2 separate regions of the Homo sapiens genome follow, and region 1 is reported to be linked to region 2. The links are microRNA targets in miRTarBase. Many come from high-throughput screens and were not tested one by one. Region 2 holds a microRNA gene; the other region holds the end of a gene's coding sequence.
What was found. Region 2 holds the annotated microRNA hsa-miR-6823-5p (UCAGGGUUGGUAGGGGUUGCU, at 2,938-2,958, opposite strand). A microRNA usually pairs through its seed, bases 2 to 8, with sites in the 3' UTR of a target mRNA and lowers its output. Matches are read on the target gene's strand: a 7mer-m8 pairs with bases 2 to 8, a 7mer-A1 pairs with bases 2 to 7 and ends in A, and an 8mer does both.

Region 1 (8,656 bases), not on the chromosome of region 2:
AATGCAGAGCAAGCAGAATCTACAGAAGTTTCTTCTTCGGGAATATCTATCAGTAAAACTCCTATCATGAAAATGATGAAAAATAAAGTGGAAAATAAACGGATTGCAGTTCATCATAACTCAGTTGAGGACGTTCCTGAAGAGAAAGAGAATGAAATCAAACCAGACCGTGAAGAAATTGTAGAAAATCCAAGTTCTTCAGCTTCTGAATCTAATACAAGTACTTCCATTGTAAACAGAATACATCCAAGTACTGCCAGCACGGTAGTGACACCAGCAGCAGTTCTTCCTGGATTGGCACAGGTGATAACTGCTGTATCTGCTCAGCAGAATTCTAATTTGATTCCCAAAGTCTTAATCCCTGTTAATAGCATTCCCACCTACAATGCTGCATTGGATAACAATCCCCTTTTACTTAACACCTACAACAAGTTCCCTTACCCAACAATGTCAGAAATTACAGTTCTTTCTGCTCAAGCAAAATATACAGAGGAACAGATCAAGATATGGTTTTCAGCCCAACGTTTAAAACATGGTGTTAGTTGGACTCCCGAGGAAGTAGAGGAGGCAAGAAGGAAACAATTCAATGGAACAGTGCATACTGTACCTCAGACCATAACTGTTATTCCTACACACATTTCCACAGGGAGTAATGGTTTACCATCTATTTTACAGACATGCCAAATAGTTGGTCAGCCTGGTCTGGTCCTTACTCAAGTGGCTGGAACAAACACCTTGCCAGTTACAGCACCTATAGCCTTGACAGTGGCAGGCGTTCCAAGTCAAAATAATATACAGAAAAGTCAGGTACCTGCTGCTCAGCCTACTGCAGAAACAAAGCCAGCAACAGCAGCAGTTCCAACTTCTCAAAGTGTCAAACATGAAACTGCATTGGTAAACCCTGATTCATTTGGCATTCGGGCAAAAAAGACAAAAGAGCAACTGGCAGAATTAAAAGTTAGCTACCTTAAAAATCAGTTTCCCCATGATTCAGAAATTATCAGACTTATGAAAATAACAGGCCTGACGAAAGGAGAGATTAAAAAATGGTTTAGTGACACAAGGTACAACCAGAGAAATTCAAAGAGTAATCAGTGCTTACATCTCAACAATGATTCCTCTACCACCATTATTATAGACTCCAGTGATGAAACCACGGAATCCCCAACTGTTGGTACTGCACAGCCTAAGCAATCCTGGAATCCTTTTCCTGACTTTACTCCCCAAAAGTTTAAAGAGAAAACTGCAGAGCAGCTTCGTGTCCTTCAGGCAAGTTTTCTCAACAGCTCTGTACTTACAGATGAAGAATTAAATAGGTTAAGGGCACAAACCAAACTTACCAGAAGAGAAATCGATGCTTGGTTTACAGAGAAGAAGAAATCAAAAGCTTTAAAGGAAGAGAAAATGGAAATAGATGAAAGTAATGCAGGTAGTTCCAAAGAAGAAGCTGGAGAAACTTCTCCTGCAGATGAATCTGGTGCACCTAAGTCAGGGAGTACAGGCAAGATATGTAAAAAAACACCTGAGCAGCTGCACATGCTTAAGAGTGCATTTGTCCGGACACAGTGGCCATCACCAGAAGAGTATGACAAGTTGGCCAAAGAAAGCGGGCTTGCTAGAACAGACATAGTTAGTTGGTTTGGGGACACCCGTTATGCTTGGAAGAATGGAAACTTGAAATGGTACTACTACTATCAGAGCGCCAATTCAAGTAGTATGAATGGTCTGTCTTCCCTTAGGAAAAGAGGGAGAGGGAGACCCAAAGGACGGGGAAGAGGAAGACCGCGTGGGCGGCCTAGAGGAAGCAAAAGAATTAACAACTGGGACAGGGGACCATCACTCATAAAATTTAAAACTGGAACTGCAATACTTAAGGATTATTACCTGAAGCACAAGTTTCTTAATGAGCAAGACCTTGATGAACTTGTTAACAAATCACATATGGGCTATGAGCAGGTCAGAGAGTGGTTTGCAGAAAGACAGAGAAGATCAGAATTAGGTATAGAATTATTTGAGGAAAATGAGGAGGAAGATGAAGTTATTGATGACCAGGAAGAGGATGAAGAAGAAACAGATGATAGTGACACTTGGGAACCTCCACGACATGTGAAACGGAAGCTGTCTAAATCAGATGACTGAAATGTAAGTTAAGAAAATTTTTAATCTGCGTATATGTTCATCAACCACATACATTTTGAACAGTCACCTTGTTGTATCAGTCATCTTCATTTTTGATATTTTCTGAAGTAGTTTTTCTTTTCCCTAATAAGACTAGGTACCACTAGTATAGCTAAGAGATAAATGATTATCATGTGTAGTTTTATTATTATTATGTAGAGTTTAATGTCTTAATTATTATTTTTCATATGAATTGGGTTTTTTTTACTTTGTTTTGAAGGAAAGTTACCCAATCTCTATGAAGGGAGACTGGCAGGCAGGTTGAGGGGATTCACAAACAAATACTAAAGATAACTAAAATGTATTTTATTGCAATGCCCCCTTCACTAAAGCTTCATTTTTTGCCTATTTAAGGAAATAATTCAAAAATGAAAACTAAAAAGAAGGGGAAAAGTACACCAAAGGAAAGACTTACCACAGGGTTGAGGATTGTGCAGTTTTAGGAAACTAGGTGAAAATGGGTATCTTTTCATCTTCATTGCATTGCTCCCAAAACTTTACTAGACTTTTAACTAGAGTTTAAAATGCTTTATGTATTTATGAAATTACTCAGTATCTTTTTAGTAATTTATAAAATTACTCAATATCTTTTTCTGTTAAAAGTCAAAGGTCTGTTTTAGGCCATATATAAATTCATGTTTGCTTAGGCGGCATCTGTCTTTGAAAACTGTGATATAAATTATTTCTGTTTTAGAGATCAAAAGGCAAATAACAGATTTGATATAAACCCAATTGCTTAAAATATCTTTTCATTCTTTGGTATAAAACAAACCTGCTACCAGCACTAACATTGTATTTGATTTAAAGTATATCTCTGTAGTCTTAAAAATGCAAATAAATATGGCTTAAATTTGAAAGGTTTTGGCATGTTCCTTAAATCTTAGTTCTTTTATAAATTGGATTAATTAAAGTTGAACTGTAGTTGCAAATCAGATACCTGCTTTGGAGTTAGGAATTGAATTCTTAATACTTCTGGAATTTAATAACATAGTTTTATTCTTTGCTATTCTTTGTTTTGGAGTGTTCCGGGGTAAAAGTACACTGTTTTGAAAACAATGCAGTTGTCATGAAATGTTTGTGTATGTCTGTCAGTAGTCCAAATAGCATCTTGCTATCAGAAATGACTGCTGTGTTCAAACAGTAAGGAAGGAAATGAGACGTAGACCCTCATTATTATTTTATACGTGAGCATGCTTACTTATTTCCTTGGCTTTTTGCATGAGTATCCCATCCCCTACTTTTATGCTCTGTTATTCTGTGCAGTTTTTCCTTAATTCCCTTACATCTTCTCTCTGGTTTTATTTATTTTAACAATTATTTATAGAGAGCTTAATATGTACCAGGCACTATTCTTACTGCTTGGCAATCCTTTTTCAGGTTTTCTCCTTGTTAATATTTTTTAAGGGATAACAGATGAAACTAAAAATGTACCTGTTTTAATAAGCAGTATAAATATCATTCCAGGTTATAGGGTATAATGTAATCATTTTAGGTTATAAGAAGTTAAACAGTTTCATACAGCTTTATCCTGAAGTGCAGCCCTCCATTTCCTAATGTCAGAAATCTTCAGAGCAGGCTTTCTTCTGACCCAGATACATAAAATATTTTTAACAGGCATTTTTTTTATTGCTAAACACAAGAATGTGCACTCAGCCAAGATTAAATCAACAAATTTGTTGCTGCAGTGAATGTTGTTGTTGTAACCTCTGCAATGATTTTTTTGGGGAGTTGCAGTCTTCCAAAAATAATGTGAATTTTTCTGTACAGTTTAGTTTGACCTTTAATTTTGTATAGATAATTCTTATGTTATATATTAACACTGTAATGGATACTAATTCTGGTCAGAAAATTCATCCTAAAACTACAGTTTTCAAAAGACTGTATGATGTATGCTATACATGCACTGTATTAGTCCATTTTCACACTGCTATAAAGAACGACCTGAGACTGGGTAATTTATGAAGAAAAGAGGTTTAGTTGACTCACAGTTTTGCCGGCTTAACAAGAAGCATGACTGGGAGGCCCCAAGAAACTTACAGTCATGGCAGAAGGCGAAGGGGAAGAAGGGGAAGCAAGCACATCTCACCATGACCGAACAGGAGAGAGAGCGAAAGGGGATGTTCCACACAACTTTCAAACAACCAGATCTCCTGAGAACTCACTCACTATCATGAGAACAGCCAGAGGGGAAGTCCACCCCCATGATTCAGTCACCTCCCACCAGGCTCCCTCCCCCGACACTCCCTGATTAAAAGTTATGTATGGGCTTATACAATTTCAAATGTAAAAACAGCCTATTTACATATGTTGAAACAATAAGATTTTGTGGTATCACTGTCCCTTAATAATTACAATTCAAGGTAAGATTTGGATGGGGACACAGAGCCAAACCATATTATATACTTTTGTGATAGCATAGAAGCATGCCTTTTTAAATACACAAAAGTCTAAATTTCTGAAACATCAAGTTATCCTTGGCTGAGTAAAATAATTTTTCACTTATAAGAGGATTCACCATAGCCTTCTCTAAATAGTTATTTCTTCATTTAAATATTGTTCAATTTACCAAAAAAGTTACCAAAACCTTCCCAAAATAGTTATTACAGGAAGTGAGGTACATATATATCTTTTGCACCTTGTATAGAAATAGAAAAAAGTACAAGTCTTTAGATTTCATAGTCTGCTTATTACAGATACTGACAATGAAATATATACTCCCTGCTCATACAGTTTGAAATAAATTATTACATAAAGATGATAAATGTTTATAAGCAAATCTAGCATATGAAGAACATATACATAGATGAGTTGCACACAAAGCCTAGTGTATTATGGAAGACATATGTGGCAGGTAATCTCAAGAGAATACAAAAGATGTATTTTCACTTTTATTTCTAAAAGTAGTAAAAATTAAAATATGGTTTTCTTTAAATTTTCAGTTTTTTATGATGTTTTTCTTTTTTAGCTGCCTAAAACGTTGAAGGAGAATCAATTCTTCAACTCAAGATGTCTGATTTACTGTGAATTTGCCCAATCTTTGATGACATTGAAAACGTTTTGGGGCATACACACTCAAAAAGCAGGATCCAATACCCAAAAGAAATGGAACTTAATGTTGTGCCAAAGTTAAACTACTGCAGTTGGTGGAAGTTCTGCAATGTAAATAGAACACTAATTAAAAAACAACTTGTAAAAATGCAATTTAAATTTTAATACAGTACATTTTTCTTCTAATATGATGGAGACATTCTGAATCTTAGACTTTCTGAGGGGGTTTAATGACCACTAGAGCTTGTCCTCATATTCAGTCCAGTTTAATACTGTATGTCTAGTAAGATGGGCTATATATTGCCTCTATTCTTTGAGATGTGATTAAGCTTAGAACTTTGACCAAAAATTTTACAGTAAAAATTGTTAGAAATGGGTAAAAAAAAAAAAAAAAAAAAAACCCTGATTTATTACTATGTCTTATTTATCAGACCCTGCACTAAGATTAAAAGTTGTGCATGGGCTTATACAATTTCAAATGTAAAAACAGCCTATTTATATATGTTGAAACAATAAGATTTTATGGTTTCACTGGCCCTTAATAATTGGATCCTTCATTAAACACATCCATGAATACCACTGTTTCTACTGTTACTTGTTCCATTAGAAGCTGATTTGCTTTTTATTAAACTGCAGGAAATTAATTCTGAAGAAGGAAAAGAAACTGACATGGTAATTTGGATAGGGTGAAGCTTTGAAATAAATACTGCACCAAAAATGTGAAAAAGAATCACGTAGTAAATGTATACTTAGTGTTTTCTTACAATCGTGGAAATCAGAAATGTTTATACAGGTGTCAGATCAGAATTTTTAAGAGTTATCTTTCAGTGAAATTTTATAACAGTTTCAGTGAATAGAGAAAAAATTCTGAACTGATCATAATGAGTTAAAAGTTAGCTTTTCACTTATGAATCATGGGAGTGTTAACTGTTAACTCTTGCCGTATCAGGAGACTGAAAGTTCATACTAATTTACAAACTTTGTAAAGACTGGTGCTGTTCATTCATATTGGGAAGAACCCTTTCTTTTGTGACCATAGGACCATTTTTCAAAATGCGCTTTCTTCGTAGAAGAAATGTTCAGTTTAATTAGCTTTGGATTTTAACATGTTTTTCTGAATGACCAGATGTAGGCTTAGCCAGTTTATTTTCTCTAATTTAATGGATAATAAATATTAAGCTCTTGGTTAAATGTTTTTCAGCCATTGAAAATGTTATGAAAAAGCCTTGAATATGCATGCTGCTTTCATTTTTATAAACTTTTTATTTTTTAACTATAGCTTTATTAGTAATTCCAAAATGCTGCAATGTAGCTGATTTCCTCACTCAGACAGCTGGCTTTGTGGGTGGCTTTTTTCATACTACTGTTAACTTTTTTAAAAAAGAAGCAATGTAAAGACCGTAATGCACTAAGCTTTTTTTTTTTCTTTTACACGTTTAAAAACTTCTTAAAGCACTCTGTAATATAATGATTAAATTGCTCCCTTTTATAAACATTGCTAATGTGGTCTGAGTTTTGTTTGACAATAATTTTAATGTTCTCAAAATTTGAAATGTCAAGTATTAGAAATGAAGCCTTTGAATATAGTTGTTTCCCTTGCAATATGTTAACTCTGTGTAGCTGTATATAACTATTAATTTCCCTCATCTCTTTTATAGGCCTGATAAAACTCTTCTCTGACGTTTGCTAGCTTTTAAATATATTTATTTGACAGAGCAAAAGAACCCTCTTCTGGTTGATTGTGACCTTGAATACAAAATAAAAGTAGTGATTAGTAGTTTACAGTGACCTTTTTTTTTTCATTTTATTAACAAAGTCAATTTTTAAAACATTGTGGTAAAATATATATCACATACTATTTGCCATTATACCAGTTTTTAAGTGTAAATTCAATGGCATTAATTATATTCACAGTGCTGCACCACCTTCACCACTTTTCCAAAAGTTTTTCATCACCCCAGACAGAAACTCGGAACCATTAAGCAATAACTCCCCATTCCTCCCAGCCCCTGGTAACCTCTAATCTACTTTTTGTCTCTATGAATTTGTGTATTCTTGATATTTCAAAGAAGTAGAATCCTAAAATATTTGCCCTTTTGTGTCTGGCTTATTTTAACTTATAATGTTTTCAAGTTCATCCATGTTTTAGCGTATATCAAGACTTTGTTTCTTTTCATGGCTGATTTATGTTTTATTGTGTGTGTGTGTGTGTGTTTGTCTGTACACGTGCACTTCCTCCCACACACATTTTGTTTATCCATGTATCTGTTGATGGAAACTTGTTTTTTTCCCGCCTTTTGGCAATTGTGAATAATGCTGCGGTGAACATTGGTATACAAGGATCTGAGTACCCATTTTCAGTTCTTTTGAGTATATCAAGGAGTAGTATTCCTGAATCATGTGGTATTCTGTGTTTAATTTGTTGAGGAACCACCAAACTCTTCCACAGTGCTAAAATGTTCTCTGAAGCATCTGTACCATTTTACGTTCCACTAGCAATATACAAGCATTCCAGTTTCTCCACATTTTTGCCAACACCTTTCATTTTCAGTTTTAAAAAGTGATTATAAGCCCAGTGCGATGGTCTGTGTCTGTAGTCCCAGCTACCAGGGAGGCTGAGGTGGGAGGATCACTTGAGCCTAGGTATTTGAGGCCAGTGAGAGCAATATAGTGAGACCCCATCTCTAAAAATAAAATAATAAAAATTATAACCATCCTAGTAAGTATGAAGTGGTGTCTCATTGTGGTTTTGATTTGTGTTTCCCTAATGATGAGTGATAATGTCATTAGGAAAATGCAAATCAAAACTACATCTTTTCACATAATTATTTGTATATCTTCCTTTGAATATATTGAAAGTTTGTTCAATCCTTTGCCCAGTTTTTAATTGGGTTGCCTTTTTGTTGCTGAGTTTTAGTTCTTTATATATTCTGGATGTTACAGCTTTATCAGATACAGTTGCTTCTTGACTTAGAATGGGGTTTGTCCTGATAAACCCATTGTAAGTTAAAATTTTTGTAAGTTGAAAATCCATTTAATACCCTGATGAACTCACCATAAACTTGAACTATCATAAACTATTACTATTTTTTGAGACAGAGTCTCTGTTGCCCAGGCTGGAGTGCAGTGGCACCATCTTAGTTCACTGCAACCTCTGCCTCCTTGGTTCAAGCGATTCTCATGCCTCAGCCTCCCAAGTAGCTGGGATTACAGGTGCCCGCCACCATGCCCATCTAATTTTTATATTTTTAGTAGAGACGGGGTTTCACCATGTTGGCCAGATTGGTCTCAAACTCCTGACCTCAGGTGATCCACCCACCTCAGCCTCCCAAAGTGCCAGGATTACAGGCATGAGCCACTGCACCTGGTCACAATCATAAATTATAAATCCATGTGTTTCTCAGTTTACTATGGGGTTAGGTTACCATGG
Region 2 (8,656 bases):
AAGTCCTGGGAGTCACCCTAGCAAATCACTGAACCTGAGGGCAGTCTTGGGGACCCCCTACACACCATGTATGAGCGTGCTCAGGTGTGTGTGTATATACAGGGTGAGAACATGTGCGCCTTCGTGTGTGTAATGGCCCTTGAATTACGTGTGGCTTAAGTGAGCCCAAGTATTTATATGTGTAGGTGCCCACACATGTACATATACCCTTATGTATAACGTGACTGTGTACACAGGGGGTGTGCATGTGTATGTACCCTGTGCATATGGTATACGCATGTCCGGATGTGTGCCTATGAGGTATGCACATGCATGCATGTGCCCACGTGTGTGTGTGCATAGGGGGCTTGTGTGTGGTATAGGACTGTGTGCAGGAGTATGAGTGTGCCTGTTTAGAATATGTGTACTTATGCCCTTGCATACACTTTGTTTTTGAGACAGAGTCTTACTCTGTCACCCAGGCTGGAGCACAGAGACGCAATCTTGGCTCATTGCAACCTCCACCTCCCAGATTCAAGCAATTCTCATGCCTCAGCCTCCTGATGTAGCTGGGATGACAGGCGCCCCACCACATGTGGCTAATTTTTGTAATTTTAGTAGAGATGGGGTTTTGCCATGTTGGCCAGGCTGGTCTCAAACTCCTGGCCTCAAGTGATCCACCCACCTCGGCCTCCCAAAGTGCTGGGATTACAGGCGTGAATCACTGCACCCGGCCTTGCACGCACTTTTCTAGATCTTCTGCTGTGTCCAGTGTCAGAGATGGACCTCAACACTGTGTGAGTAACTGGGCCTCTGGGAAATGCAGCTGTCTCTTCCCAGGTTTTCCATTTTAAAAACTCTGGTCCTTTTATTTTGCTAATTGGGAAATTTTGGGCTGATTAATAGGAGATGGCCCTGTGGCCCAGCCAGAGCCAGGATTCGGATACAGCAGAGAGGGTTTCTAGGGCAGCCAGAGGGTATGCCTGCAGAAAGGCAGCAATGAGCCTGTCCCCAGCTTCTGTTGCAGGGTGACCTTGGACTAGCTTCCCAACCTCTCTGAGTCTAGGTCTCTTCATTTGAATTAATCCCAAATATCCCTACCTTAGGGGGACAGCCAGAGTGGAACAGCTGGCAGACTCTCCCCACAAACACTATGGATTCAGGCAGGACGGACTTCAAATTCAAACCCTGAGTGACCCAAGGCACCCCCATCACTTTCTGGCCTTGGTCCCAGCATCTGGAAAAGTGAGGCACCGCCCACCACAGAAGCTGCTGGGAAGATCAGACAGTAGGCTATCAGCGTCCACAGCTTGGGGTTGTTGGCTGAGGCAGAAGAATTGCTTGAACCTGGGAGGCGGAGGTTGCAGTCAGCTGAGATTGCACTACTACATTCCAGCCTGGGCGACAGAGTGAGACTCCATCACACACACACACAAATAATAATAATTTTTAAAATAAATAAATAAAATTTGCATTTGATGTTCCTTGACCTACCTATTGAGGAATATTGGAATGATGGACACTTTTTAGCGGTGGATGGGCTTAGATTCAAGTCTGGGCGCTGATGTAAACTTGCTATTTTGTGCGAGACTCCTGGCCTGTCTGAGCCTCAGTTTCCTCATCTGTAAAAGTAGGGGGTGACAATGGGCATCAAGAACCCAGCACACGGTAGGTTCAGACATTAGTCCTCTACTTTTTATCTGGCTCAATATAACCAGAGGGTCCAGCCTTGATTTTTACCCACAATTTGGCCATAGAAACCTGAATATCAGGCTCCCCTTCCCTTCTTGGTGCCACAGCCTGGCCCAGCCACACCGATGCAAGAACAAAGGCAGTCTCCAGTCTGAAGGTCCAAGCCCCACAGCAGGGAGTTCCTGCCCCCTGGTGGCCAGAGAAGGAACGGGTAGCCTAGTGTGGACCCCAGTGGCAGCCTGGTAGCCACTGGGCTTGATTTGGGGAAGTCACTAGAGCTGGGTCAACCTCTGCTCACTGCCCTATCCTGATGGCTGGGCCAAGAGCAAGTCTCTGCCACCCTAGGTTGATAAGGGGCTTCTCAAGACCACAGCTAACACCTCCTGAGAAAAGCACAGCATGGCTGCTCAGACCACCAGCTGGTGCTCAGTTCCTTGAAGAAAGGACTCAGTTCAAGTCTGAAAGTTGTTGAGGGTGGGGCGGTAGCATATACATATTTCTATCTCCAGAGTAACAGCAGAAGTGTGAACGACTCACCCAGCAGCATCTAGGAGATGTCAATGCAAAGCCAATCGCACCAGCAATCACACACCAAGAACATGCTCCAAATACACAGGAGAGAGCTTATCCTGGGGCAAGGGAGGAAGCCCCCCACCCCCAGCTCCATCCCTAAGGCCTGTATGCCTGCACTCACTCAGGTTCCCTTCCCCAGCAGCAGCCATCCCCACGGGGCGCTGGGGTGAGCGAGCGTGACCTCCAGGCAGCAGCTCCAACGACCTGCATGGGCTGAGCCCCTCTTACCTCCCTGAAGCTCTGTCCTTCCCAAGGGTTCCTTAACCCCAGGGCAGGAATGGCCCAGCCACCAGGAGGCCACACAACACACCCTCTCCTCTCATCCCCAAACCCATCACCTCCCACCCCCACCACATCCTGAGAGATCCAGAGACCAGCCTTGTCACACAGCCCTGTCACACAGCCATCAGGGCTGGGCAAGGCCAGGGCTCAGGAGTAGCTCAGTCATTCACCAGCAGCTCCACTCCAGGGGCTTCTCAGTAAATGGTCAGTAATGTGTTAGCTTTCTCCACACTGGGTCCCCCAGCAACCTCTCCCCCCACACCCAACACATATACTTACTTCCTGATTTTCAGGCCCTCTTCATTGTCGGGGAGAAAAAATTCAAAAGATTTGTAGGTCTTGACCACGTCCCGGCGATACTGGCCAACATTGAACTCTGGAGGGAAGGAGAGGCTCAGCTTTCACAGCAACAGCAACCCCTACCAACCCTGACCTTGACCCAACCCCAGGCCAAATAATAGAGAATAGGCCTTCTCTATTCTCTTCGTCATGCCCCACAAAGCTCCCCTTAGACAGCTGGGGCCAAGCCTCACCCCGAGTGGGCACACCAATCCAGTTCAGGTATCGAGTCAGCTTCTTGGAGATGTAGGTCTTGCCCCTGGCGGGCAGGCCCACCATGACAATGAGAGTTGGGCAGTTGGTCATGCACACTAAAAGGCAAGCAGCACAGTGTCAGATGAGGGCTGGGACCCTCCCAGCGCACCCCTCCCTCTCAGCCTGTGGTCTCTCAGCCTCAGGGCATGGGACTGGCATCAGACGTATCTTCTTGGCTTCCTAGCATCCCCACACAGCTCCTGGAGTGGCCCCAGATGCTGGTTTCAAGCCACCGTTGGCATGTCCCCCTTCCCCAGGCCCGCCTGGGCTCTGGCAGACACAGTGGGATCTCTCCAGCCCTTTTCATCCTGATGTGCACCACCAGGCATAAAGTCAACCGAACTTGCCACTGGCTAAACATGGCTAGGGGGGTCCCCACCGCATGAAGGACAGGACCAAAACCCAGCAGGGTAATCAACACCCTGCCTCTGTCATCCAGGAATCCATACCCTAACCTTTTTACATCTCTCCCACCCCATCCATCACTCAGTGCTCCCAGAACACATAGCCCCACTGCATGCCCTCCCTGTGGTGAACTTCTTTTCATCATACAAAGCCCAGCTAAAAAGTCACTTCCTCAATGAGTCCTTTCCCCAAGGCATCTCCATGGCCACCGGGAACACCCCTCACCCTCAATCCTGGTCACCTCACTAATGACACTCTTCTCTCTAGACTGATCACTTACAGCAGAAGAAGCCCTGTGGTATCTGAGCCCTTTAGGGCCCTGGGGCCTGGCACAGCGCTGGTGCTCAGGAACTGTGGGCAGGATCAGGGAGGGAGGCATCTAGAAGTCTCTCAGGGTAAGGACCACAAGGGGTTGAGACCAGAGACCCAGACTGATGCCCACAAGGACAGTCCCTCTGATAGCCCACCCACCACCATCCATGTGCCACAGGTCAGTGTGCCAGCCAGAGAAGATGCCAGGCTAGAGGCACGGAAGGATCTGAATACAGCCCCCTATATTCCCAGCTGGCTAGAACAGATACCAAGGCAGCAGAACTGCCAGCTTCATCTTATGGGACCTAGCTCACTTTTCTTTTTTTTTTTTTTTTTTTGAGACGGAGTCTCACTCTGTTGCCCAGGCTGGAGGGCAGTGGTGCGATCTTGGCTCACTGCAACCTCTGCCTCCCAGGTTCAAGCGATTCTCCTGCCTCAGCCTCCCAAGTATCTAGGATTACAGACACCTGCCACCACACCTGGCTAATTTTTGTATTTTCAGTAGAGACGGGGTTTCGGCATGTTGGTCAGGCTGGTCTCAAAACTCCTGACCTCAGGTGATCCGACTGCCTGGGCCTCCCAAAGTGCTGGGATTACAGGTGTGAGCCATCACCTCCAGCCTTCTTTTTTTTTTTTTTTTTTTTTTTTTTTTTTTTTGAGAGGGAGTCTCGCTCTGTCGCCCTTGCCCAGGCTGGAGTGCTGGAGGACACTGGTACCCAGCTCACTGCAACCTCTGCCTCCCGGGCTCAAGCAATTCTCGTGCCTCAGCCTCTCAAGTAGCTGGGATTACAAGCACATGCCACCACACCTGGCTAATTTTTGTATTTTCAGTAGAGACAGGATTTCATTATGTTAGTCAGGCTGGTCTCGAATTCCTGACCTCAGGTGATCTGCCTGCCTCGTCCTCCCAAAGTGCTGGGATTACAGGCGTGAGCCCAGCCCTCAGCTCAGTTTCCAGTGCCATCAAACGCGGTCTCACGTCAGAAGCCTCAGGAAGCTTCCTTTTCCTCATCCTTAGGACCTGGGTCAGGTAAAACCATAGCAGACAGGCAGATGAACAGATGTGGGGACCTGTCACTGCCCCTCTTCTTGGTTCTGCAAGTGCCTTCACCTGGTTGCCTAGACAGACTGTCCCCACCAACAAGTTGTTTCCCTCAGAGCACAGAGGCCCCAGAAGCACTTCCGCAGGGGATCAGGAGTCAGGCCTGGGTTGCCATCTTGAGTCTGACACTCATTGGGAACTCTGAGCCTCGGTGTCCCCAGCTGTAAAATGGGGCAGTCATCCCTCAGAGAAGCCTAGTGCTATCCAAGAGCCTGGGCACTTCTGGGAAGCTGTGCCCTCTGTCCTACCCTGGCGGATACTGAGCTAAAGCCATAGGTGTACCTCGGCACCGACTGCCCTTGGGACTCAGGGCATGGAGGCGGTGGCCTGGCCCCAGGCAGGCCCTGCAGAGAAACAAAGGGCCTTGCTTGCCAGTGGGGGCTCCATCACTCCTGTGCATTCCCCTTGTTTAAAGGTGACCCAAATGGTGAGCCTCAGGGGCGGGAAGGAGGAGACCCCATGAAACAGGCTGACTGAGTGAGAGTGGAGAAACTTGCAGAGAACTCTCAGTATTAGCTAAGGTGAGAGGAAAACAAGTTAGGCAAGGCCTTGCCTCCTCAGGGCCGGTGGACAGCTGAGGCCCGCATTGTGCATTGTTTGCATAGTTCCCGGCCAGGTGGCCGGGCTCTCAAGCAACCAAGGGCAGTGCGACAGCTGCTAAGCAGGAGGAAATCCTGCATCTACCCTGCTCCCGCTGATGGGGCCACCCCCCAACTGCTCCTTCAGGGACTCCCAAAACCTCAGGACTGGGGATCTGCACCCCCTCTCCACATCTCCTATTTTCCCAGAGACAGCTCCAGCCTCCTCCCATGGCATTTGGTGGCATTTCCCTTCCCGCCTTCCACCCACATGCGCAGCACAAGGTGGGCAGGCAGGGCAGCAAATCAGGCCTGGGTGCAAAACAAGGCAATAAATTACCTATCTCCTCTGCTCCCCAAGATAAGCTCCCAAGGAAATGACCCAAAAGAAAACCAAAGTTCAAGTGTATCACAACAGCTCTGCTTACCATAGCAAAACACTGGGAAATTCCAGCCATAAGAAATTGCCAACTGAGGCACAACAAGGAGGGAACACATTGCAGCTCTCAAAACAGAGCACGTGGACTAAGCGGGCTGGGTGCACGGCTGCACCTGTGGCTCTGAGCCCACAGGACCCTGACACTGAGCAAACAGGATGGTAGAATACACTGTTTATAGCTGGGCGTGATGGCACATGCCTGTAATCCCAGCACTTTGGGAGGCCGAGGCAGGCAGATCACCTGAGGTCAGGAGTTCGAGACCAGCTTGGCCAACATGGTGAAACCCTGTCTCTACTAAAAATACAAAAATTAGCCGGGTGTGGTGGTGCACACCTGTAATCCCAGCTACTCGGGAAGCTGAGACAGGAGAATTGCTTTAACACAGGAGGCAGAGGTTGCAGTGAGCCAAGATTGTGCCACTGCACTCCAGCCTGGGGGACAAAGCAAGACTGTCTCCAAAAAAAAAAAAGAACACACTGTTTATAACATTGAGCATGTGCGGAAGGAAATGTGAAGACATGTCAGCCCAACTTCCCTCATGGGTTCCTTTCCTGTAAATTCGCTGCAGGCCCCATGAGCTCTAGGAGCGAAGGGGCCCAAGGGGCCTGAGACGTGCCTGGCAATGGGCAGTGTCTATGTTCCATTACTTCTACCCAAGGAGCAGCCACAAGTCCCTGGAGGGGGTGCCAGAATTGACTCCTGAACTGCAACTGCTCTCACCTCCTTAGGCCAGGCTAGGGAAGGAAGAGCTCTTTAAAATAAAGTAACGTGCCATGGAGGCCCTTTTCAGAGGGGACTGAAAGTCATCTCTCCTGTTGCCCTGTGCACACACCAGTCATGTCCTTACCCAGGAAGAGTCTTGCCACCTTTCAGCTGAGAAAAGCCATCAAACACCGTCCTTTCTGCAGTCCTTCTTGAGTCAGCTCTTGCCCCACCTGCCCTCAGAGTTCCTCCAGGTCTGAGCTCGGAGGCCAATGATGGGAAAGGTAAAAGCCTCCCAAGCCCTCAGGTGTGGCTTTAAATTTTATCAAGCGGGGGCGTGCCTGTGGGAGTGGAGGAGGTGCAGTACATCCCTCAGTCCACCAGCCCCTAGTGCCCTGAGGAGCTGGGGACTAGACTCCAGAGAAAACCCAGTACAAAGCACAGACCAGCAGTGGGTCCTGCTTCTTCCTCCCCACAAAGCCCTGGGACCAAATCCGCTTCCATCCCCACCCACACCCTCCGGGTCCAGACTGTCCTTGCAGTCACTCAACCTACAAGTCTACTATGCAAAGGGTAAAGTGTTGCCCAAATGCAGGCACTGGGAGCTGGAGGTGCTGCATGGGCGGGTTCCATGTTCATTCACTGCTTACCCACTCCCTGCTGTGAACCCTGAGGCCCAAATCCCCAAACAACCTGCAGGTCTCATCTTTGGCCTCTCAGGTGCTACCTCCTCCTCCAGGAAAAAGTGCGGACCTAGAACCCAGCCTACCCCAACACCCTGAGACACCGTGATGGCACGAGCCCCTCAGCTCAGGCCAGAGCCACATTTCAGTTCCACACTTAGAGCCTGGAGAAACACAAGCCCTGCCTCAGGAGCTATGAGACCTTCCCATTGGGCCTCAGCTTCCTCTCACCTGTAACGGGGGTTGGCTTGGAGCTGATGCATCAATCCCTGACTCAGACGTAGTGAGAAGCAAAGAAAGAATGGTAGTGATGACAGAATACCCTGCCTCCGCTTATTGAGGACCTACTCCTTAAAGGCTCACAGACTTGGCTAGGCATGGCAGCTCATGCCTGTAATCCCAACACTTTGGGAGGCCAAGGGGGGCAGATCATTAGAGATAACGAATTCAAGACGAGCCTGGCCAACATGGTGAAACTCCATCCTACTAAAAATACAAAATTAGCCGGCCATGGTGGCGCATACCTGTAATCCCAGCAACTTGGAAGGCTGAGGCAGGAGAATTGCTTGAACCCAGGAGGTAGAGGTTGCAGTGAGCTGAGATAGGACCACTGCACTACAACCTGGGCAACAAGAGTGAAACTCCGTCTCAAAAAAAAAAAAAAAAAAAAAGTCCAGGTCCTCACTCCTTTCCCCTATGTAGTAATAGCAGCCACCCCCCTAAGTCAGGACCACACAGCCCTAATAACACAGACTGGCTCAGCCTCCCCGCCTCCAGAAGAGTCTCAAAGGAGGGGTGGCCATAGCCCTCAGGACTGAGTGTGCATTATAGACAGCACAGCCCCACCAGGACCTACATCACAATCAAAGCCATGAGTTACCACGACTTGGTCTGGTCAGAAACATGGCCTTCCCCTGCCAGGACTCACAGTGTGGCCAGAAATACACACACCCTTCCCCCAGGACTCATATCATGATCAAAGCCATGGCTCCAGGCTGCTGCAGCAGGATGAGCACAAAGAACTCTCCCCTTGCTTATCATACATAAGCAGAGGCAGGATCACAGGGAGACCCAGGCATGTCACTCAATCTCCTGATCTCCATTTCACTGTCTGTTAAACTAGATGTTCTCTGAGGTGCTGGACAAGCTGCAAATTCATTACAATGTTTCAGTTACTCCTAAAACAAATCTTTCTTTTCCTGGTAATAAAAAAGTTGCAGGCCAGGACCCACGCCTGTAATCTCAACACTTCGGAAGGCCGAGGCCAGAGGATCCACTTGAAGCCATGAGTTGGAGACCAGCCCAGACAACATA

Region 1: the mRNA of ZHX1 is a reported target of hsa-miR-6823-5p. Seed matches in the 3' UTR shown: 8mer at 5,625-5,632.

Annotation. Positions count from the first base shown.
Region 1 is chr8:123,246,808-123,255,463 of GRCh38, reverse strand. ZHX1 (zinc fingers and homeoboxes 1) reads left to right here. Exons shown (of 4, transcript NM_007222.5): 3 at 1-2,142; 4 at 5,144-7,008. The coding sequence ends at 2,139. The region is part of intron 2 of ZHX1-C8orf76 (ZHX1-C8orf76 readthrough); the gene reads left to right. Among named protein-coding and RNA genes, the nearest start is that of C8orf76, 9.8 kb to the right of the region's middle. RefSeq lists an enhancer at 4,210-4,419.
Region 2 is chr3:48,547,059-48,555,714 of GRCh38, forward strand. It overlaps MIR6823 (microRNA 6823), which reads right to left and starts at 2,963; the gene lies at 2,903-2,963. PFKFB4 (6-phosphofructo-2-kinase/fructose-2,6-biphosphatase 4) reads right to left here. Exons shown (of 14, transcript NM_004567.4): 2 at 3,060-3,176; 3 at 2,806-2,902. RefSeq lists enhancers at 3,374-4,037, 4,038-4,699, 4,700-5,363, 5,364-6,025.